Homo sapiens: one gene and its partners. The protein of the gene in region 1 interacts with the protein of each later gene in a biochemical or structural test. Each region holds a gene or a part of one and is shown in the gene's direction. Other genes may lie near its edges. The genes, in order: DLG4, PTTG2, CIT, MAP4, SIPA1L1, LIN7A and ZSCAN30.

What was found.
Region 2: the proteins of DLG4 (region 1) and PTTG2 interact in a test that uses a peptide from one of them, tested with the Homo sapiens proteins (one large-scale study listed by IntAct).
Region 3: the proteins of DLG4 (region 1) and CIT interact in a test that uses a peptide from one of them, tested with the Homo sapiens proteins (one large-scale study listed by IntAct).
Region 4: the proteins of DLG4 (region 1) and MAP4 interact in a test that uses a peptide from one of them, tested with the Homo sapiens proteins (one large-scale study listed by IntAct).
Region 5: the proteins of DLG4 (region 1) and SIPA1L1 form a complex in vitro, tested with the Homo sapiens proteins (2 studies listed by BioGRID and IntAct, with this or other methods).
Region 6: the proteins of DLG4 (region 1) and LIN7A form a complex in vitro, tested with the Homo sapiens proteins (one study listed by BioGRID).
Region 7: the proteins of DLG4 (region 1) and ZSCAN30 interact in a test that uses a peptide from one of them, tested with the Homo sapiens proteins (one large-scale study listed by IntAct).

What each region holds. Positions count from the first base shown.
Region 1 is NC_000017.11:7,197,075-7,200,632, reverse strand, and holds part of DLG4 (disks large homolog 4), read left to right. Parts: intron 1-3,558. UniProt on the Homo sapiens protein: Postsynaptic scaffolding protein that plays a critical role in synaptogenesis and synaptic plasticity by providing a platform for the postsynaptic clustering of crucial synaptic proteins.
Region 2 is NC_000004.12:37,959,230-37,961,686, forward strand, and holds PTTG2 (securin-2), read left to right. Parts: upstream 1-1,168; 5' UTR 1,169-1,205; coding exon 1,206-1,781; 3' UTR 1,782-1,899; downstream 1,900-2,457.
Region 3 is NC_000012.12:119,688,779-119,692,336, reverse strand, and holds part of CIT (citron Rho-interacting kinase), read left to right. Parts: intron 1-1,882; coding exon 1,883-2,186; intron 2,187-3,558. UniProt on the Homo sapiens protein: Plays a role in cytokinesis. Required for KIF14 localization to the central spindle and midbody. Putative RHO/RAC effector that binds to the GTP-bound forms of RHO and RAC1. It probably binds p21 with a tighter specificity in vivo.
Region 4 is NC_000003.12:48,009,906-48,013,463, reverse strand, and holds part of MAP4 (microtubule-associated protein 4), read left to right. Parts: intron 1-3,558. UniProt on the Homo sapiens protein: Non-neuronal microtubule-associated protein. Promotes microtubule assembly.
Region 5 is NC_000014.9:71,585,941-71,589,498, forward strand, and holds part of SIPA1L1 (signal-induced proliferation-associated 1-like protein 1), read left to right. Parts: intron 1-357; exon of another isoform or gene 358-988; intron 989-1,630; 5' UTR 1,631-1,932; coding exon 1,933-3,430; intron 3,431-3,558.
Region 6 is NC_000012.12:80,843,933-80,847,490, reverse strand, and holds part of LIN7A (protein lin-7 homolog A), read left to right. Parts: intron 1-1,551; coding exon 1,552-1,761; intron 1,762-3,558. UniProt on the Homo sapiens protein: Plays a role in establishing and maintaining the asymmetric distribution of channels and receptors at the plasma membrane of polarized cells.
Region 7 is NC_000018.10:35,283,711-35,287,268, reverse strand, and holds part of ZSCAN30 (zinc finger and SCAN domain-containing protein 30), read left to right. Parts: intron 1-3,558. UniProt on the Homo sapiens protein: May be involved in transcriptional regulation.

The sequences.
Region 1 (3,558 bases):
GGAGGTTGCGGCGAGCTGAGATCGCGCCATTGCACTCCAGCCTGGGCAACAAGAGTGAAACTCTGTCTCAAAAAACGACAAAAAAAAAAAGGAATGTGGCTATTTGTAAGATAAATAACAGGAATTAGTAACTTCCCAGCAATAAGAAAATGTAGTGAATAAAAAGCCCCCTTTTGCCATAGAAAAAATTTCTATAAAATTATTAGAAATAGAAACTTGACAAGAAATGTAAGATTTGTATGAAGAAAATGACAAAACTTTACTGAAAGACATAAAACAAGACTGGAAGGGGTGAGGAGTCACACCGTGTCTCTGGATGGAAAAACTTAATATGCTAAAGATCTCAACCGGCTCCAAATTAATCTACATTCCATTCAATCCTAATCAGAATTTTAATGTTGTTTCCCTACTGGGAACTTGGAAGGTTGACACTAAAGTTTGACTGGAAAAATTTGTGTGGAAAAGCTAAGACATTTTGGAAACAAATAATGAGGTGTGGCAGCCCCTACAAAATATGAAATAATACTGTAAAACCATATTAAAATCATGTGGTACTATTCCTAAATACCATAACCTAACAAAAGGAACCTGGGCTCCTTGGAAGAAGGGTCAATTTAAAATCTTTTTTTTTCTTTTCTTTTTTTTTTTTTTTTGAGACGGAGTCTCGCTCTGTCGCCCAGGCTGGAGTGCAGTGGCACGATCTTGGCTCACTGCAAGCTCCGCCTCCCGGGTTCATGCCATTCTCCTGCCTCAGCCTCCCGAGTAGCTGGGACTACAGGTGCCCACCACCACGCCTGGCTAATTTTTTTGTATATTTTAGTAGAGATGGGGTTTCACCGTGATAGCCAGGATGGTCTTGATCTCCTGACCTCATGATCCCCCCACCTCGGCCTCCCAAAGTGCTGGGATTACAGGCCTGAGCCACCGTGCCCAGCCAATTTAAAATCTTTGGCAATAAATCTGTAAGATGAGCTTCTAACTTCTTTCATACTAGAGAGCAAGGAAGGTATCCAGGACTAATAGGGTCTCAGCAAAGACACAGGATCCAAACTGAAGGTGCTTCTACTGTCCAGTGAAAACTCGTTAAATATATTAAAATCTTTAAGATCATAATAATACTTAAAAATATTTTGGCTGGGCGCGGTGGCTCATGCCTGTAATCTCAGCACTTTGGGAGGTTGAGGCAGGCGGATCACCTGAGGTCAGGAGTTCGAGACCAGCCCGCCCAACATGGCGAAACCCCGTCTCTACTAAAAATACAAAAAATTAGCCAGGCGTGGTGGTGGGTGCCTGTAATCCTAGCTGCTGGAGAGGTTGAGGTGGGAGAATCCCTTGAACCTGGGAGGCAGAGGTTGCAGTGAGCCAAGATCGCACCACTGCACACCAGCCTGGGCGACAAGAGTGAAACTCCATCCCAAAAAAATAAATAATTAAAAAAAAAATTGGAGGATGCTAGGCAATCTCATTCATTCTGAAATTGGTGAATGAATGGAAAGAGGCATGCAGAGAGAGGCATGCATTTATCCTCCCTTTCATGTACCAGCTACCTCAGAGAGTAACCAACAGGTTGACATAGGGCTGTTTTTTTGTTTTTGTTTTTGCTTTTTTTTTGTTGGAGGCAGGTCTTGCTTTGTCACCCAGCAGGCTGGAGTGCAGTGGTGTGATCTTGGCTCACTGCAACTTCCGCCTCCTGGGCTCAAGCGATCCTCCCACCTCAGCCTCCCGAGTAGCTGGGATTACAGGCGAGTGCCATCATGCTCAGCTAACTTTTTTTTTTTTTTTTTTGAGATGGAGTCTCACTCTGTCACCCAGGCTGGAGTGCAGTGGCACGATCTTGGCTCACTGCAACCTCTGCCGCCCGGGTTCCAGCAATTCTCCTGCCTCAGCCTCCCGAGTAGCTGGGATTACAGGGCCCTGCCACTGCGCCCAGCTAATTTTTGTACTTTTAGTACAGATGGGATTTCACCATCTTGGCCAGGCTGGTTTTGAACTCCTGACCTTGTGATCCACCTGCCTCGGCCTCCCAAAGTGCTGGGATTACAGGCGTGAGCCACTGCGCCCAGCCTCAGCTAACTTTCAACTTTTGTCTTTTGTAGAGATAGGGTTTCACCATGTTACCCAAGCTGGAGGAATTTTTTTTTTTTTTTTTTGAGAGGGAGTCTCGCTCTGTCACCCAGGCTGGAGTGCAGTGGCACAATCTTGGCTCCTTGCAACCTCCGCCTCCTGGGTTCAAGCAATTCTCCTGCCTCAGCCTCCCGAGTACCTGAGATTATAGACGTAAGCCAGCACGCCCAGCCTATTTTTGTATTTTTAGTAGAGACGGGATTTCACCATGTTAGCCAGGCTGGTCTCAAAGTCTTAACCTCAAGTGATCTGCCTGCCTTGGCCTCCACAGTGCTGGGATTACAGGCATGAGCCATCGTGCCTGGTCGAGATTTTTCTTTTTTACAGAAGAATTCCCACTAGTAAATGACAATCACCACCATTTTGCAGTCCTTGATACTTATCAGAACCAGGCGGTGATTGTCAGTGTGGCTAAAACTTACCTGAAAGGCTGATGGGGCGCTAGATAATGGATGGACTGGGCTGATGACCCTGAACCTACCATTAATCTTACCTGACAGAAAGACAACCAGGCATTATTGCATCCTGTGGTGATGCTGTAGGAAGAACGTAGCGCTACCTATGAAGTATACAGGAGTTACTAAAAAAAACTCTGAATTGAACTTGAAACTGATCAAGCCTCCAGAATGAACTGCCAGTTTACAGGAGATACAGGGGCAGAGGCATAGGCTAAACAAACCACAGGAGGGTAAGCAGTAATTTCCCTGTTAGAATTTCCCTCATAGGCTGGTCAAGGTGGCTCATGCCTGTAATCCCAGCACTTTGGGAGGCATAAGCGGGTGGATCATTTGAGTTCAGAAGTTCCAGACCAGCCTGGACAACATGGTGAAACACTGTCTCTACTAAAAATACAAAAATTAGCTGGGCATGGTGGCGCGCGCCTGTAATCCCAGCTACTTGGGAGGCTGAGGCATGAGAATCACTTGAACCTGGGAGGCAGAGGCTGCAGTGAGCCAAGATCACGGCACTGCACTCCAGCCTGAGACTCCTTCTCAAAAAAACCCCAAAAAAACAAAAGAATTTCCCTCATAGAATGTGGGAAATTCTTTTAGACAAATGACCTAGTTTTTTCAACGAATGGATGGCAGAGAGGTGGGGGGAAAAAAGAGGGAGAAGAATTTTATGGATTAAGAGATTCGAGTGACACAGGAACCCAGAGAAAACCCCCAAAGCGTAATATTAATGCTCCCTTTGACTTCCCCATCCCTGGCATACTGAGGACATATAACGTTCAAATCCTTTATCCCCTAGGACAACCAGCCTCTGATGTCACCTATAAATTCCTGACCCCTGATGTCACTGTGATCTGATATCCCCTTACCACCCCACCCTGGCATCTCTGGCAGAATATCTTCCCTTCCACCTAACTTTGGCTCTTCTGGCACCCTGGGGAGAAGGTTGGGTGGCGGGTGCTGTTTCCCTCCAGGCACTTTC
Region 2 (2,457 bases), on another chromosome or scaffold:
TAACCGATAGTCTTCCGTTGACCTCACCAATAACACAGTCGACTAACATATATTTCGTATGTTTTATGCACTATATCCTGTATTCTCACAATAAAGTAAGCTGAAGAAAATGTTATTAAGAAAAATCATAAGGAAGAGAACATATTGCATTATTCATTAAGTAGAAATAGATCATCATACAGGTCTTCACCCTCATTGTCTTCACGTTGAATAGGCTGAGGAGGAGGAGGAAGAGGAGGGGTTGGTCTTGCAGTCTCAGAGGTGGCAGCCGCAGAAGAAAATCTGAGAACAAGTGGATCCATGCGACTCAATCCTGTATTGTTCAAGACTCAACTGTATATTTTTGCATATGGGCTCAAATACGTACGCACATATGTCACTGGGTCAAAGATTCATAGAATGAATTAGACAACAAGAATATTTATCATTGAATTGAAATGGCTCACTGCAAAAGTGCCCTCAACTTATCTCTAGGCCTTAGAAACAGAAGTGACCCTTTGCTGCTGTGAATCAATAGCCTGGACTAGATTGGGGTTGGGTTGGCAAAGGTATATAGTCATTGCCATAGTCCAGTATTCCTGCCCAAGCAAGCACCATTAGTAGTCACGTTGCTCAGAGAGGGCCTCTCGGCTCTCCCCACCACTGCATGCTGGATTGTCTGCCACCAGTAGATCAGAGTTGGCAAAAGGGATAACTCGGGATGAAACATTTGAGCATTTTGCAGTTTAGAGAAACTTCAGGGGTGCTGCTTTAGTAAAAAATGGAAGACTTGCATTTATTAAAGGTTAGTAAGAAGTGAAATAATGTATGCAAAAGTACATTATAAATTAGAAAATGCAATAACGGCAGAAACTATTTATTTATTGGTTGCTCTGCCCTTTACCTAAGTGGTTTTTGACCATTTAACAATGTGTAAGAGTTGGGTTTTACCTCCATTTTATGGATGTGGAAATAGGGCTTGGATGTTAGCTAACTTGCCCAAATCTTACAGCTAACAGAAAGTGGTACTCCCGAGATTCCTACCCAGGTTTGTCTGACCTCAGGCCTGTGCTCTTTATATGAGTTCATGCTAACTCTCAGATGATGTGCTAGGCACAAAAATTAGATATTACACCAATTTCCACTATAGTTAACATTCTATCTAAATATAAAGTGGGACCACGGTCTTAGATGAATGTGGCTGTTGAGAGCGGCAATAATCCAGAATGGCTACTCTGATCTACGTTGATAAGGAAATTGGAGAACCAGGCACCCGTGTGGCTGCCAAGGATGTGCTGAAGCTGGAGTCTAGACCTTCAATCAAAGCATTAGATGGGATATCTCAAGTTTTAACACGACGTTTTGGCAAAACATACGATGCTCCATCAGCCTTACCTAAAGCTACCAGAAAGGCTTTGGGCACTGTCAACAGAGCTACAGAAAAGTCAGTAAAGACCAATGGACCCAGAAAACAAAAACAGCCAAGCTTTTCTGCCAAAAAGATGACCGAGAAGACTGTTAAAACAAAAAGTTCTGTTCCTGCCTCAGATGACGCCTATCCAGAAATAGAAAAATTCTTTCCCTTCAATCTTCTAGACTTTGAGAGTTTTGACCTGCCTGAAGAGCGCCAGATTGCACACCTCCCCTTGAGTGGAGTGCCTCTCATGATCCTTGATGAGGAGGGAGAGCTTGAAAAGCTGTTTCAGCTGGGCCCCCCTTCACCTGTGAAAATGCCCTCTCCACCATGGGAATGCAATCTGTTTGCAGTCTCCTTCAAGCATTCTGTCGACCCTGGATGTTGAATTGCCAGCTGTTTGCTATGACATAGATATTTAAATTTCTTAGTGCTTTGGAGTTTGTGTGTACTTGTATTAATAAAGCATTATTTGTTTAACAACATAATAAATACATAAATATAAAGTGGGTCATATTCCTCTTTATGTGCATCTGTCTCAGCTGTCCCTTGTTTCTATATTTCTTCCATACTACAGCCCGTACTCTTTGGGGATATGTCAACATGATTTACTTCTGTAGAGAAACAGGAGACAGGAAATAGCAAAGGATAAAGGAGAAAAGGCCAGGGCCAGGCCAAGAACTTCTACATCTTTTCTTCCCAGCCTAGTGTGAACCAGATGAAAGCCTTAAGGAGGTCCTAGCAGCAAAGGGAGATAATTAAAAGAATGAGAATTTTGTGGAATGCTAAAAAAAAATAGGGAACATATTTGCAGCTAGGACTAACACTGATTATCTTAAAATGTCTATATGGCTAAATAATGTTCATGAAATCCCGTATCTTATTCTGCTAATGTCTTACAACTTAAAGCACTTTTATGTCCATGCCTTGAATTCTGTACAAAGCTTTGATAGAGTCACAGATGTCTGGTGTCAATCCAGATCACCTGAGAGGCTTCAGGGTTTCCTCTCTGGTTCCTGAATTCCAAGACTTAGTGAGTTTCCTAGGCCAGGAGCTGCTATTCA
Region 3 (3,558 bases), on another chromosome or scaffold:
ATAGTCCTTTGGGAAAACACTTTTCTTGTTTTAATTTTTAGTTTTAGTTTTTTAGAAGCGGGGTCTTGCCATATTGCCCGGGCTGGTCTTGAACTCCTGGGCTCAAGCAATTCTCCTTCCTTAGCCTTCCTAATAGCTAGGACTACAGGCATGCATCACTGTGCCCGGCTTTTTCAAATATTTTTGAAGAGCCTTCTTTAGGATCCACTGCAAAAGTCCAATGTGTCCAACGTTGGTGTCAGAGCATGTTAGCAGCAATTTTGTTGAGACAATTAGCACAAAACAAATCATTCTGTGATTCATGCTTGGTTCATTTTTGGAATCAGCATGTAATTGCATTGTAATTTAAATACTAAAAATATCTAGCATAAAATAAGTTTATATTCCAAGATAAAGCCTCAATCAAACAAAATATGTTTTCAAGTAATATTCACTGTAATTTTTTTCCTCCATTTTAAGTAGGGCCTTTTCCAAGCACAAATTATGCTGAGATAATAGGGACCCTAGTACTTTTAGAGCTGATCAAGGGTGGGAAAGAATTGACTCAGAAGGCCACATTTCAGTTCTCTCTGTGTTTGTAGGTCTTACTACATCTTCAGAGAGGGAGTTTGGCCCCTGGGTCTGCTGAAATCTTCATTTGAAATATCCAGGCCAGGAGTGGGTGGAGGATTGGGTTGGGTTGTACAAAAAGGCCGCAGTGTTTTCAACTGCTTGGTTACTAATTATCAACCTTTGAGGCCTGGGACGTTTTCTGAGCCCGCTTTACTTTGTCTGCCCTGCTCAGTTTCCTGACTCTATCAGGCCTGATCCCTACACCTCTCGGTCGTCTTATTGTCATGACTGAGAACCATCCACCTTCTGAGCATCTGCATTTGCATCAGGTGTCAGAGACTCTTGGAAAGCCACATGGGGGCAGAGGTGACCAAACACGAGGCCCAGGAGTGGGACAGACATGGCAGTTAACAGTGATCAGTACAGGGTTTCTCCAAACTGCTTCCTTGCACTGAGGGCCTTTGTGGGTCCCTGACTTCTGGGTCTTAGTAGGCTGACCTCCTAGTTGATGACTTCCTTCTGTGCCTTCTAGGCTCTGGGAAATAGTAGGTCAGTAGGATATTATATGGGGCTTATGACATCAAACTGGTCTTTTTTTTTTTTTTTTTTTTTTGAGACGGAGTCTTGCTCTGTCACTTAGGCTGGAGTGCAGTGGTCCGATCTTGGCTCACTGCAACCTCCGCCTCCCCAGTTCAAGCAATTCTCCTGCCTCAGCCTCCTGAGTAGCTGGGACTACAGGCACACGCCAACACGCCCGGCTAATTTTTGTATTTTTAGTAGAGACGGGGTTTCACCATGTTGGCCAGGCTGGCCTCGATCTCCTGACCTCGTGATCTACCTGCCTCGGCCTCCCAAAGTGCTGGGATTACAGGTGTGCGCCACTGCGCCTGGCCTATCAAACTGGTCTTTATTGGAATCCCAGCTCTACCACTCATTAGCTCAGGCAAGTCACCTAACTCCTGTCTGTCCCCATTTTCTTGCCTGTACAGTGAGGGTCATGCTTGTTCATAGCTCAGGAGCTGCTGTGATGATTTAATGAGATAATGAGAGATGGCAGATGAAGAACTTAGCACAGGCCTGGCACACAGTAGGTGCTCAGTAAATGAAAGCCTGCACTGAGGAAGGTGGGTTGTCTTTTGTTGCCATCTTTGCTCTCTTCCCTGTCTTTGCTACCAAAATCAAATGCAGGCAAAGTCCAAAGAACTCCAGGTCTAATCTCTTGATAATCAGTGGTGAGGCTGGGTCAAGGAGGGGGTTGCTCAGGTAAGAAGGAAAATGCCCCTCTGGGGTTGTGGCCTCGCAGCTCCCTACGTTCCTCTTGTGTCGCCAGCAGCCCCAACAAGCGAGGCCCACCCACGTACAACGAGCACATCACCAAGCGCGTGGCCTCCAGCCCAGCGCCGCCCGAAGGCCCCAGCCACCCGCGAGAGCCAAGCACACCCCACCGCTACCGCGAGGGGCGGACCGAGCTGCGCAGGGACAAGTCTCCTGGCCGCCCCCTGGAGCGAGAGAAGTCCCCCGGCCGGATGCTCAGCACGCGGAGAGAGCGGTCCCCCGGGAGGCTGTTTGAAGACAGCAGCAGGGGCCGGCTGCCTGCGGGAGCCGTGAGGACCCCGCTGTCCCAGGTGAACAAGGTGAGGCAGCATTCCGAGGCCTGTGTGTCTGTTGCGGAGGCCAGGAGTGACTTGGGGAACTGAGGCCCCCACGGGGCCACTGTTGTTTAAAAAAGGAACTCCATGACTGTAATTCAGACTTTGCGAGACACAGGAATTTAGGAAGAAAATGTACCTTAAGAAATAGCTTCCTGGCCGGGCGTGGTGGCTCACGCCTGCAATCCCAGCACTTTGGGAGGCCGAGGCGGGTGGATCACGAGGTCAGGAAATCGAGACCATCCTGGCTAATGTGGTGAAACCCCGTCTCTACGAAAAAAATACAAAAAATTAGCCGGGTGTGGTGGCTGGTGCCTGTAGTCCCAGCTACTTGGGAGGCTGAGGCGGGAGAATGGCGTGAACCCGGAGGGCGGAGCTTGCAGTGAGCCGAGATCGCGCCACTGCACTCCAGCCTGGGTGACAGAGCGAGACTCTGTCTTAAAAAAAAAAAAAAAAAAAAAAAAAAAAAGAGCTTCCTAAGCAAATGGATAACGTGTGTGTAATTGAAAAGGAAAATATGTATGCATGTAACTCAAAATATAATAGCTACCAAAAAATGTTTTCCCTTCTCCAGAGGCAAGTGGTAGCAGTTTCTAGAGATATTCTGTGCGTACCAGCAAATATATATGTGTGCTCTCCTTTTGAAACCCAAATGATAGCATCCTATATGAAATGTTGCATGCTTTTTTCAAACATAGATATAGATTCACACACATACACACATATGCTTTTCTTTTTTTTTTTTTCTTTTGAGAGACAGCGTCTTGCTCTGTTACCCCAGGCTGGAGTGCAGTGGCGTGATTATAGCTCACGGCAGCCTCAAACTCCTGGGCTCAAGTGATCCTCTCACTTCAGCCTCCTGAGTAGCTGGGAATATGGGCTGTAGCTACCATGTCTGGCTAACTTTTTCCCCCACTTTTTGTTTGTTTGTTTGTTTGTTTGTTTTGTTTTGTTTTAGAGACAGGGTCTTACTATGTTGCCCAGGCTGGAGTGCAGTGGTGTGATCATAGCTCACCACGGCCTTGAACTTCTGGGCTCAAGTGATCCTCCAGCCTCAGCCTCCTGAATAGCTGCGACTACAGGCTCAAGCCACCATCTGTCTGATTCCCACCCCCACCCCCGGCCCTTTTTATTTTTTTTAGAGACATAATGTCGCTATGTTGCCCAGGCTGGTCTTGAACTCCTGGGCTCAAGCAATCCTCCCACCTTGGCCTCCCAAAATGCTGGGATTACAGGCGTGAGTCACCACGCTCAGCCCACACATGTGTATATATAAATTGTTTTTCTGGAAGGCTACACAGAAAGTGTTCACAGTGGTTGCCTTCCAGAAGAACTTTGAACTTTTGGAAATGTTTAA
Region 4 (3,558 bases), on another chromosome or scaffold:
ATTAAACTGGTGCTTCAGTAAAGCATACAGACTTCTGTACCCAGCTTTCAAATTCTCTTGACTCTTACTCACAAATCTATTTAAAGTTAACTTTATTATCTGTATGGATAGAAGAGGAATAGTATAAATGGTCAATTGGTCAGTGAGAGGTTTTTTTTTTAGAGTAAATGCTTCTCATTCACAAGGGTTCATTTTTTGATCCTCCTGAACATCCAGATTTGAAAATAATAGTGTCATATCCTTTTATCCATAAAATATGTAACTAAGCATTTAAGGCATAACCGAATAGTAAGTAACTTCAAGTGATTCTGTGTGAGATGAAATTCATACATGAATTTATTAAAATTAATTTTGGAATACTTGAACCAGTTTAACATCTATAGAGCATTTAAAGAGTGTATTGTACTTATACATGTTTCAGAATAAAATAACTATAAAATTGGATAATCGCTTTAATTTATTGAAAACTGGGGATTTCTGGGAAAAAAAAAACAACAGTACTTTAACTTGAAAGATGACACTAGCATTACCTTTCTAGGATCATTTTCCATAAGGGGGTGTGTGTGTGTATTTTAAAATCATATTCTATTTATGTGGTGACAAGTAAAGAATAGCTTAACTGTTGATGAAATACAGATGCTAAGTGGCTAGCTAGATGTGCTCATAGCTTCATGACCTTCCCACTTTCCAATTGTATAATTTTCTATCAGTTTTACCCTCTTAGGCTGAATTTCAGCTACTGTTCATATTCCATGAACCACATGCAGCCCAGGAAGTCATCTGAGAGTGTGTGGCTGGGGGCGGGGTGGGGGTGCTGAGGGTTGGATAGGGGAAAGATTACAATGGATAAAAGCTGCCCTTTGATAATCTGCATTCTGATAAATGATATTTAAAATGTATTGGTGTTTTTGACTGTATTTTTACCCTGTGCCTTAAATGAGGAAAAGATTTGAGTAGATTGCATCTTATGTCATTATGTATTTCTGGGGAAAATTAAATTTTGGATTTTTATGGTATGTTGTTAAGGATGGCACAGATGTCCTTTTAAGTTCTCTTTGACCATGAAACTGATGCAGGATTTTTGCTCCTTAGCTCAACTAGGTCCAGGTTCTTATCTCAGGAGCGGAAGAATTAGGCACGTGGACATCAAAGAGTGAGTGGAGTAGAATCTATTAATCGAAAGGAAAGCTCTTAGCAAAAAGAGAGAACATGGTAGGTGGTTCTACTACCTGAAGACAGGAAAGTTCCGTAATATGGCTGAGCCTGGGGCTCTTTATTGGTTCAGAATGGGAGTGTGTGGTCATTGGTTTGTGAGTATGCAAAAAAGGTCAAAGCGAAGACACCACTCCAAGGTGGGCAGGACAGTGTAGAAAACCAATTAGGAAAGGGTAGGTACAGGTTAAATAGGTGAAGGATGGGGATCAATCATGCCAAACGGGAAGGCAGGTTCTTAATCCGATCTCAGGATTTACCCAGGACAGTTTCCGGATTAAAGTTCGGGTTTCACTGAGGACCCGCCCCTGTCTGCCTAGACATTTGTTTGCCTCTTGCCTCTATCAAAACTAGTTACAGACGTCCTTTTTAGTTTTTGGTTCATAACAGCTCCCAAAGGATAACTACTAATAATAGTTGTCAGAGATAGAATAGGGAAATGGCATAACCGAATAGTAAAAGCAACTGAATAGTTGCTTTTCATGGAACCCTTTGACATTATAATCTGTTAGGCTTTTAAAAGCTCTTTAATGAACTCATTTCTCAGCATTTTCCCTGTCATGATCTGGAGTTACAATAATACTTTATATGTAAAGTAGGCTGGACGAGCATAGAATAGGGCTTCCCACCCACATTCGTCTGTTGTAAATGGGTCACAGGTGTGCCACTACTACTATAGGAACTTTTTTTTTTTTTTTTGAGACGGAGTCTTGCTCTGTTACGTAGGCTGGAGTGCAGTGGCGTGATCTTGGCTCACTGCAGCCTCCACCTCCTGGGTTCAAGCAATTTTCCTGCCTCAGCCTCCTGAGTAGCTGGGATTACAGGTGCATACCATCTAAATAATAAAAATCAGTGCCCAGCTAGTTATTCTGTTTTTGTATTTTTAGTAGAGATAGGGTTTTACTGTGTTGGCCAGGCTGGTCTCAATCTCCTGGCTTCAAGTGATCCACCCGCCTTGGCCTCCCAAAGTGCTGGGAGATTACAGGCTGGGATTACCAAGTCCAGTTCCTACTATAGGAACCATTGAATTCCTATTTATGGTTCCTTCAGAAAAGCTGCTAAATCCTGAATTCGGCAGTGGTTATTCAAATAGTGGAATTTATAATTCCAGTAGTGTGAGATGGCATTTGCTGTGGACAACAGCTCTGTCATGCCACAGGAGCCCCTTTGGCAGCAAAGCTATCAGTTTTTGTCACGAGCCCCACACTACTTGTTTTAGTCAGGATTCTCTTAGAGGGACAGAACTAATAGGATATATCTCCAAAGGAGAGTTTATTAAGTATTGATTTACGTGATCACAAGGTCCCACAGTAGGCTGTCTGCAAGCTGAGAAGCAAGGAGAGCCAATCCGAGTCCCCAAAATGAAGAACTTGGAGTCCGATGTTCGAGGGCAGGAAGCATCCAGCACGGGAGAAAGATATAGGCTGGGAGGCTAGGCCCATCTCTTCATGTTTTTCTTCCTGCTCTATATTCGCTGGTGGCTGATTAGATGGTGCCCACCCAGTTAAGGGTGGGTCTGCCTTCCCCAGCCCACTGACTCAAATGTTAATCTCCTTTGGCAACACCCTCACAGATACACCCAGGATCAATATTGCATCCTTCAGTCCAATCAAGTTGACAGTATTAACATTACAAGTCCACTCCTTGTCAACTTGAACCCATATACATCTGAGATCGTATGTAATCTTAAAATAAAGACAATAATAAGGTCATAATTACACCTAATGTAATAAAACTATCCTTCATACAACCAGAAACACACCAATCCCCAACCCAAATACTATTACATAAAGTTAATAATACTTAAATGCTGTTATGAAATCAATAAATCTTATGTCACATGATAAAGGAAAAGGAAATATAAAGTGAAGATATTAGTACATGTGTATACATACACAAACATGTTTTTAACAAATGAAGGAGGAAATACTCATGGCAGTTACAGTCCTCATTTCTGCAGCTGGTCACGTGGTCATAGCTGGTATTGATGACTACCTTCTTCTACCCATTCTGTATTAACTTTGCCTTCCCCAAATACCTCAGCAGGTCATGGGTTTTTTTCCTGGTGGAGTGATCCAAACCTTCATTCCTGAATGGTCCGGATCATTTGTAGTCCTGCCTGGATTTGGCTGTTGTGGTTTTGCATTGACAGTAATCACAGGGCATGGTAATACGAAGAGATGCCCTAATGGGTCTCATGTATTCCATGCATACTCTTCCTTACTTCCGTTGTGAAGTTGTAGACTGATTTCATCTTGATAGTCTGGGTCAGTCACCTTAGCCAACACTGTAACTCCCCCTCTGAGCCTGTTGACTTAAAGGGAGGAGGAGCCCAAAGTGTCCAGG
Region 5 (3,558 bases), on another chromosome or scaffold:
CAACAGTTAGCATGTTTTGTCACTTGAAGGGTTATCATTGAAAGAGGAACATGTAAAGTTCTGGAATGTAAAGGGAATAATAGCAGTCTGACAGTAGAAGTATCTAGAAAGCTCAAAAGCCATGTTTAATTAGGTAGCAGTGCAAAACTATTATCCCTTTTACAAAAGATGGTGAAGAGGAGTGCTAGTGAAAACAAATGGCATTTATCTGAATGGCTCCACAGACTCAGCCAGCACGAGCCCAGCCAGAGCTCGCCTCACCCTGCATTCTGCAGGCAGCATGCATTTTTTTTTTTTTTTTTTGAAACACCCCTACATGTTCCAGCCTTTAAATAGCAGCGAGTCTTCTAAAGTGATGCTGTGTGCTGCAAGAGAAATGAAAGCGCCTGCCTTGGAGGCAGGAAGCCGACTAGGGAGATGCTTAATTATCGTGGAAGTAGGTGCTTGTTACCATTGAGTGGAGAGTGCAGCAAGTGCAGGTCGTCCTCCGGTGTCAGAGCCGTGATTTGTAGACAATGCCGCCCTGTCAGCTCAGTGCTGGTTCAGCAGCATCTTTCCAAACATGTATTTGGCAAGAATTTAAAGGCCACCTCTTGTGTAATTTGTGGAGTCTTGGAAAAGGAGCCTCTGCCTTTCTTTTCAGAATGTACGCAACCATGCAGAATTTTGTACTCAGAATCTGTGTCTCCTGCCTTCTGCCTGACGTGCTCATGAGGAAGTTTGTTTCCATGCCCGTCACCTGGAAGGATGCTAACAGTTCTCTGTAATCTGTTGGGGATATGGAGAGGGCCACCCAGAGCTGTGTTTTGTTTCTGCCGTCTTCATAAATTAGCACTGATGGGGTGGAGTAGGTTGTACTGCATGAGGAAATGCAGGCATTTTGTTCATTAGTGAGATACTTCTAGCTTTTAAGAGTACAAGAAACTAAGGAGAGCTTGGGAAGAGGTGGTGGTGAATGCTGGATTCATTCTGCAATATCCTCGTCTCGGTAAGTAATAAAGTAGAGGAAAATACAAAAGAGTGCTAATGGATATAATGGCTCTGGGAAAACTCTTTTTATTTATTTTTTCCTGCTGTATTTGTTTTTGCCAACTATGTTAAGCCTTTGTAAGGAAACAAAAAACATGTATTGATTTTGGAATAGAGGAGTTAAAAAGTGATTGTTGCAGCATATTCAGTAAAGTCATTTTTCAGTTTTTACTTTTGTCAAAAAACTCTGTTGCTCTAATTATCTTATTCACTTGGTTACATCTCAAACTTCTGGTCATCACAGTAGCTCATGATGTTCTACATTTTTAGAGGTCATTGGAGCAAAAGTCTGTACTTTGGGTAGGAGCCATGATATCCAGAACAAGATGTACCCCTCCCCCTGCCCCCCATTTTATGAAACAGTTCAATTAAGATGAAGTCTTAATAGTTTTTTTTTTTAGAATATAAATTATGGATTTTATCAAATGGTTTTTACTTTCTTCCTTTCTTTCAAACCTGCTTTACTAAAAATACGGATTGTGGAACTGTGAATCCTAATCCATTATTGAGTCTTTTATCTTCATGTGTCTGGTTTTGACAATTGCATGTTTGTTTTTAGATGTATTTATCTGCTAATTCAAATTATCCTTTTCTCTTTTAGAGAAAGCATGGGATTATGGCAACCACAGAATCTCAGTAGTACAAGTTCCATTCAGTTTTTTCTGAAAGAAAGCCCTCTGTTAAAGTGAAGCAAAGAAACTGTTGTGGATTATAACGTTTAGAAGTTCCAATTTTTCAGTGCTTTACAAATAAAGCATCATTTAACCTTTTAAATGAAAAAGATTAAGATCTCATGCAACTGTTGTATTTTCTGGAAGCCATTCTCCAAAAGGGAAGTGCACATTTAAAACACAGATATGATGGTCCTTGCTGCAGGGATTTAAGTCTACTTGCTTTTACATCATGACCAGCTTGAAACGGTCACAGACAGAAAGGCCTCTTGCCACTGACAGGGCCTCTGTTGTTGGCACAGACGGCACCCCCAAAGTCCACACTGATGATTTCTACATGCGGCGCTTCCGGTCCCAAAATGGCAGCTTAGGATCATCAGTTATGGCTCCTGTAGGACCCCCCCGAAGTGAAGGTTCTCACCATATAACCTCAACCCCCGGAGTCCCAAAAATGGGGGTAAGGGCAAGGATTGCAGATTGGCCCCCAAGAAAGGAAAACATAAAAGAATCTAGCCGTTCAAGCCAGGAAATAGAAACCTCAAGTTGCCTTGATAGCCTGTCCTCCAAAAGCAGTCCTGTGAGTCAGGGAAGTTCTGTTAGCCTCAATTCCAATGACTCAGCCATGCTGAAAAGCATACAGAACACGCTGAAAAACAAGACAAGACCGTCGGAGAACATGGACTCCAGATTTCTCATGCCTGAAGCCTACCCCAGCTCCCCCAGAAAAGCTCTTCGCAGAATACGCCAGCGAAGCAACAGTGATATCACCATAAGTGAACTTGATGTGGATAGCTTTGATGAATGTATCTCACCTACATACAAGACTGGACCATCACTGCACAGGGAATATGGTAGCACATCTTCAATTGATAAACAGGGAACATCTGGAGAAAGCTTTTTTGATTTGTTAAAGGGCTACAAAGATGACAAATCTGATCGAGGTCCAACTCCAACCAAGCTCAGTGACTTTCTCATTACTGGTGGTGGCAAGGGTTCTGGTTTCTCTTTGGATGTAATAGACGGGCCTATCTCACAGAGAGAGAACCTCAGGCTTTTTAAGGAAAGGGAAAAACCACTCAAGCGACGTTCAAAATCTGAAACTGGAGACTCATCTATTTTTCGTAAATTGCGCAATGCCAAAGGTGAAGAACTTGGGAAGTCATCAGATCTTGAAGATAACCGATCAGAAGACTCTGTCAGGCCCTGGACATGTCCAAAGTGCTTTGCCCACTATGATGTCCAGAGTATATTATTTGATTTGAATGAGGCAATTATGAACAGGCACAATGTTATTAAGAGGAGAAACACCACCACTGGAGCTTCCGCAGCTGCCGTGGCATCCTTGGTCTCTGGACCTCTGTCTCATTCAGCCAGTTTTAGCTCCCCAATGGGCAGCACAGAGGACCTGAATTCCAAAGGAAGCCTCAGCATGGACCAGGGAGATGATAAAAGCAATGAGCTTGTAATGAGCTGTCCATATTTTCGGAATGAGATAGGTGGAGAAGGGGAGAGGAAAATCAGCCTTTCAAAATCAAATTCTGGCTCCTTTAGTGGATGTGAAAGTGCCTCCTTTGAGTCTACCCTTAGTTCCCATTGCACAAATGCAGGAGTGGCAGTACTTGAAGTGCCCAAGGAGAACTTGGTGTTGCACCTAGATAGAGTGAAAAGATACATCGTGGAACACGTAGATCTGGGTGCATACTATTATAGAAAATTTTTCTACCAGAAGGGTAAGTAGAGATCCTTTATTTCTTACATTTTCTTTTGCAGTACTTTCTGAAGAAAAGTACTGTATATTAAGATATTTATTAACAATGTGACATAAGATTTGCATGTCTTATCTTTCTTGATGGTAAAA
Region 6 (3,558 bases), on another chromosome or scaffold:
TTTTCCATTTAATTATTTTGTGTTACATCAACGCTTGTTTAGTTTCTCTCTTGATTTTTTAGTTTTTACTCTGTAACTGAACACTGTAGATTTGTAAGGTTTTTTTGTTTTGTTTTGTTTTGTTTAAACTCAGGGAAAAAAAGAGGGTGTTATTATCATCATGTCATGCTTTGCTTGTACTGAAGTGGAACACACACAGAAAAATGATCCCTACGTGGTTTAATTAAGGGGAAAGTGAATTGTGTAGTGTTTTACCATTCTCATTTCTTATTCATGTAGAACAGCAGGATAGCAGCATAATGTTGCAATAGCACAGTATTTTCTGGTTGTTTCTGGGCTGTCTGCATTGCATCCATGTCAGCCATTAAAATCTATGCATGACAATGAGGTTTGCATGAGCAAATGCATGTAGCTAAAAACAAGCCATTGTTTTCATGTCATTCACTATCTTTCACTAAATGCAGACAGTAGCATAATGCTAAATTGATGTGATAATGCTGTGTGTGGAAAAGAAGGTACAGTCGTTGGGAATAAATATTTTCACAGTGTTGAGTAAGTCACTTTATAGCAGGCATCTAATCAACTGTGATCAAGGTGAATTAATAAAAGTGAAAAATAAGCAGGCACAGAATCATTTCTTGATAGAAACTACCTAAGTGCTGTTATTTTATTTCTATGGGGTTAGTGGGAACTAATGGTAAGTTGTTTTCTTGAACTCATTTAATGAAATCAGTACATGAATTTTAAAACAAATTATGTCCATATTAAATGATGTTTTGTATATCTAGGTATAAAATCATTGACTTCATATTGCCTATTTTGTTATAATAATTGAAATATTAATGTATAATATAGGAAGAAAAATCCTGTTCCAGATAAGATTTCTCAGTATGGAATAATAATATGGTATATTGGTATAAGCTAACAATAATCTGTTTGAATCTATTATTTTATTTTAGTTTTCATTCTCTTTAAGGCATCCTTAATTTTTTAAAAAAGTTAAATTTGCTAAGCTTTTGGGTTGGCAATAGCAAGATTACATATGTATTCAAAAGTATGTATACATACAAGTGCTCTTCAATTTATTAAAAAAATACTTATGAACTTTTATGTGCAAGCACCAGATTAGACTCTGTGTCATACAAAAGAGTGCAAGACGCCATCTCTGCTCTTAAGGTGCTCATAGTCAACACATGTATAAAATAATTATAATAGTAGATAGTACATATAACAAAGTTATTTGGACTCCAGGAATAGGAAGAATTGCAGCTAACCAAGGTAACTGGAAAGGATTTTTATGAAGACAGGAAAATTCTGTCATAACAGATAAGCCCTAGGAAGCTGGAAATAGATGAGTGGGACTTTACCAAAGAAAGAAATCCTAGATGGCATCTAAATGAAGAAAGTCCTCTGCTTTTTGTGTTCTTTCTTTCACAGGAGAATACTATAAAAATATGAGAAGTTGCCTGAGCTACCCACTGCAAAGCATATGATTAGCCTTTATTTCCCTCATTTTATTACCAAAAGACCATCTTTTTTTTTTTTTTTCAGGCAACAGTTGCAGCTTTTGCAGCTAGTGAAGGCCACTCCCACCCTCGAGTAGTTGAACTGCCAAAGACTGATGAAGGCCTTGGTTTTAATGTGATGGGAGGAAAGGAGCAAAATTCCCCCATTTATATCTCTCGCATAATTCCTGGAGGGGTGGCTGAAAGACACGGAGGCCTCAAAAGAGGAGACCAGCTGCTATCAGTGAACGGAGTGGTATGTTTATAAAATAACCAGAGATTTTCTCCTTAAGCACATTCTTTTTTTTTGCCCCCTGCTATTACTGAAGTCAACGTTGAAAACCTAGAATAAATATTCATTTTATGTCTAACCAGCTTTCTAAGCATTGATGGATATTAAACCTATAAAAGCTGCAATCTAATTTTTATGTCTCATTTCATTATGTTCAGTTATGATAAATATCAGTGAGTTGAAAAAACATCCCAGGAAATTAATCCAACTAGCTGACTTTCTTCCCATAATACTCCAAGTAACATTTACAAGAATACAGTAATTTCAAGATACTTTTTATCCTAAGTTACTATAAGCAAATACATACATTTTAAGAATAAAGATATAGCTCCTTACTTTGTAATGTGTGTGGGTTTTTCATTTTAATTACAGAGGAAGGGTAATTTTAATGTTTATGTAATAATAACACATATGAAAAAGGCTAATGCACTCAAAATTTTTTTTTTTTTTTTTTTTTGAGATGGAATCTCACACTGTCCCCCAGGCTGGAGTGCAGTGGTGCCATCTCAGCTCACTGCAAGCTCCGCCTCCCGGGTTCACACCATTCTGCTGCCTCAGCCTCCCAAGTAGCTGGGACTACAGGCGCCCGCCACCAAGCCCGGTTAATTTTTGTATTTTTAGTAGAGATGAGGTTTCACCATGTTAGCCAGGATTGTCTCAATCTCCTGATCTCGTGATCCGCCTGCCTCGGCCTCCCAAAGTGCTGGGATTACAGGCGTGAACCATCGCGCCCGGCCTCAAAATTCTTGAAGCCAGATCTACAGCTATAGTATAATAAAAACATATTAGCCTTCCTCCAAAAAAGAGTTTGATTAAATTACCTATTCATAATATATGCTTTCGTTTTTAAATGAAATTAGAGTAAATTAAAATATGTAACATTTTAAAGTAAAAGTATGAATATACATTTTCTCATAACATATTCTCTGGATGCCACCACTTCCACTTGTAATAAGGAGTTGCTAAAGAAATTGTTTCCTATGAAACAAACATTTTCTCCCTATAACATCCACTTATATTAAACATAAATTACCTAAAAGCATACATTTCAGAAATATAAACAGAAACTTATCAATGTTACCTTTCGATTAACCTAAGATCTTTTTTCTAAGAACTTAAGGATTTTAATATATAAACTCGATTTCAGTTATTTGTGGCCAGATTGATTTATGCTTGGGACACAATATCCAAAATCAAATGTAATTGGAACATGATATTTTATTGGTAACTGTAGAATGAAATTCTTCTGTATTCATATCTTGAATTTTATTCATTTGTTTCTTATTTTTAGACTGACTAGTAGTTTCATAGAACCCAAAACTATTCCTTCAACTCTGCTGTCCTCTAATGTATATCAAAATTCTCAACCCATGAATATTTTCTATCACTTCAGCATTCCAATTACTACTTACTTTTTTCTATGTAATAATGTTTTGAGATAAGCTTTTTATTGACCTTTAGATAACTGTGACTTTTTCAAAGCATGTTTCAAGTGATAATTTCAGAGTCTAACTTTCTGGTAGAGGACTCTAGAGCTAGGTCACACAATTGCGTCACATAGAGGCTTATGCCCCAGAGTATGAACTTGCAATTTCTCTGAATATATTATATAAATCAAATAAGGTATAGATTTAAAAACAGTATGAAAAGTTTAAAAAATTTCAAAGTATATTAACAGTAATTATAATTGTGTAAAGTAAGAATATATATATATATAATAAATTTAATACGTGGTTGACTTTGAGCTTTCTTATAAGGGAG
Region 7 (3,558 bases), on another chromosome or scaffold:
GATTGGATTGAATCTGTAGATCAATATGGGGAGAATTGACATGTTAAAGCAATATTGAGTCATCTGATCCATGAACACAATATTTTTCTCAATTTATTTAGGTCTTCCTTAATATCTCTCACCAATATTTTATAGTTCTTTTTAATATTTTACAGATCTTTCATAACTTTTGACAGATCTATTCCTAAGTATTTAATATATTTTGATGCTATTGTATTTTTCCTTTAATTTCAGATTGTTTGTTGGTAATATAATAGAGAAATACAATTGATTTTTGTATATTAATCTTGTATCTTGCAACTTTGTTAAATTCATTTATTAGTTCTAGTAGCTGTTTTTGTAGATTCTATCAGATATTCTACATATGAGATCAGTTTTACTCCTTCCTTTCCAATCTGGATGCCTTTCTTATTTTCAGCGCAGTAAGGCAGGCAAAGGGAGGTGGAGAAAGGCATTCAGATTGGAAAAGAAGAAGTAAAATTGATCTTTATGTATATCAGTGTTCGGTAGAAATGAAGAAAGGGGAAATCTTTGTCTTTTTTCCAATCTTAAGTGAAGATCTTTGTCTTTTTTTTTAATCTTAAGCATCCTTTCTCTGTTAAGCATGATGTTAGCTGTGGTTTTTTTTATTGGTACCCTTTAACAGACTGAGGAAGTTTTTTTCTAATTCTAGTTTGGTGAGAATTTATATCAGGAATGTAGGATGGATTTTGTCAATTGCCTTTTCTGTATCTTTTGAGAAGACAGTTTGTTAATATGGTGATTTACAATGATTGATTTTTGAACATTAAACCAAACCTGCATTCCTGTAAAAAACCCTGCTTCACTGTGATGTATTATCCTTTTTATATATTGTTGGATTTTTCATGAAGAATATTGGCCTATAGTTTTCTTGTAATGTCGTTGTCTAGTTTTGGGATCAAGGTAACGTGGGCCTCAAAGAATGATTCAAAAAGCATCCCATTGTCTTCAGTATTGTTGAAGAGTTTGTACAGAATTGGTATTATTTCTTCCTTAAATATTTGGCAGAATTCACAGTGAACCTATCTGGACCTAGAGTTTTTTTGTGGGAAGGTTTTAAATTACAAATTCAGTTTCTTTAATAGATATGGTGCTATTCAGGTTATATATTTCTTATAGGGTAAGCTTTAGTATTTTGTATCATTTAAAGAATCAGCCAATTTTGTATAAGTTGGCATAAAGTTGTTTATAATATTACTTTGTCCTTTTTGTATCTGTTGAATCTGCAGTGATGTTACCTCTTTCATTCTTGCTATTAGTAATTTGTATCTTCTCCCATTTCCCCTTGTCGGATAGGCCAGAGCTTTGTCATTTTTATCTTTACAGAGAACCAGCTTTTCATTTATTTAAAAATTGTCTTTCATTTTCTGGTCTATTAATGTCCACTCTGTTCCTTATTATTTCCTTTTTTCTCCTTGCTTTGGGTTTAACTTGCTTTTTTTTTTCTGGTTACTTTAAGTGGAAGTTGAGGCCTCTGATTTGTAATATTTCTTATTTTGTGTTATAGAAATTTGGTGCTATAAATTTTCCCCTAAGTACTGCCTTAGCAGCATCTCACAAATTCTGATGTGTTGTCTTTTTATTTTCATTCAGTTCAGAATACTTTGAACTTGGATTATTTCAGTTTCTAAATATTTGGGGGGTTTCTAGAGATTTTTCTGATATTTATTTCTAATTTAATTTTATTGTAGTCAAAGAACATACTGTGTATGACTTGAATCCTTTAAAATCTATTGAGACTCATTAATGGCCCAAAACATGGTCTGTCTTCATAAATGTTCCATGCACATTTGAGAAGGATATATTAATATATTCTGCTGCTGTTGGGTTGACTATTTGATTATTGTTAGTTGGTTAATGGTATTACTGAAGTTTACTATATACTTTGCTGATTTTCTACTAATTTTAAAAGTAATTATTGAAAGATGAGTATTGAATTCTCTGTCAATAATTGTGGTTTTGTCTATTCTCCTTGTGATTCTATCAGTTTTAATTTTATGTATTTTGAAGCTCACAATTTGCATAAATGTTTAGGATTGTTATTCCTTTTCCTTTTTCTCTTTTTTTGAGATGGAGTCTCTCACTCTGTTGCCCAGGCTGGAGTGTTGTTGATGGCAACAGTGGGCCATCTGGACCATCTGGAGTGGCCACTGCCAAGATGCTGGCTGCAGCCAGGAGGCTCTGCCCATGCTGTGAGCTTCACAGAGCCAGAGGGAGCGGGGACAAGCAGGAGCCCAGCTCCTTCCAAGTTGGCGGGTGGGAGCTCCCCAGGCATAGCTGCAGCTGCCCAAGTCATGGCTGCTGGCTGAGCCTCCCTGTGTTCTTGGAGACCAGGAGCAGGCAGGAGCCCTGCTCTCCTGGGTGCAACTGCAGCCACCCAAGTCCTTGCTACAGACCGTGTTCTTGGAGGCTGGGAGCAGGCAGGAGTGCCAAAGCAGGCAGGAGTGCTGGAGCAGGCATGAGCCCTTCCTGCATCCCCCACCTCCTTTGTGCAGCTGTAGCCACCCAGGTTGTGGCTGCGGACCAACCTGGATATCTCTGCACTCTAGGGGCCTGGGAAGGCACCCCCACCTCAGCAGGCTTGGAGGTATCTGCTTCTGCTGCCTGGCCTCTCCCTGCTCCTGGTGACTGCTCTGATCTAGGAGCAAGGTTGGGGCCGAGCCAGGGTGCTGTTGCAGCCCAGCCAGTTGTGCGCATACTTGAGGCAGTGCTGACAGGCCATTCCTCTGCTGCTTCAGCCCCCTCCAGACTTTGGGTGCTGACAAACATAGAAGGGAGGCTGAGGGAAGGCTGAAGGCAGTTCAGCATTTGCCTGCAGGTGCTTGTCCCCACGAACAGCCTGGGCACCATAGAAAGCAGTAGGAGGCGACATGCTCTGAGGCAGAAAGGGGCGGGTCCCCAGAAGGCCTGAAGCCTAATGGCCAGGCCACCAGTCCCCCTGACTGGAGGGGGAACTGGTGGTGCTTTTTCTTGGACCTGCCCATGGCCACCAATGGACCAATCAGCATGCACTTCTTCCTCTCTGAGGCCCATAAAATTCCCTGGACTCAGCCAGACTGGGGGAGAAGACCTGCCAGCAGAGAGGAGCTACCTACTCCAGGGCCTCTTTTCTGCTGAGAGCTGCAGAGACAACAGGAGGACCAACCTGCAGAGAGGAGCTACCCACTTCAGGGCCTCCTCTTTGCTGACAGCTGCAGCGATGATGGGACAAGCTGCCTGCAGAGAGGAGCTACCCACTCCAGGGTCTCCTCTGAGCTATTCTGTTGCTCAGTAAAGCTCCTCCTTCTCAGTAAAGCTCCTCTTCACTTTGCTCAGCCTCCACTTGTCTACATACCTCATTCTATCTGGATGCAGGACAAGAACTTGAGACCTGCTGAATGGTGGGGCTGAAAGAGCTGTAACACAAACAGAGCTGAAACATGCCCCTTGCTCACCACATTGCAGGCAAAGAGGAGAGAAGAGCTGTGGCCCTTCAGGAAGCCCAGACCAGGAAGCTCCCTGAGCCAGGATTGTGACTCCCGTTGGGGCCCTGCATTT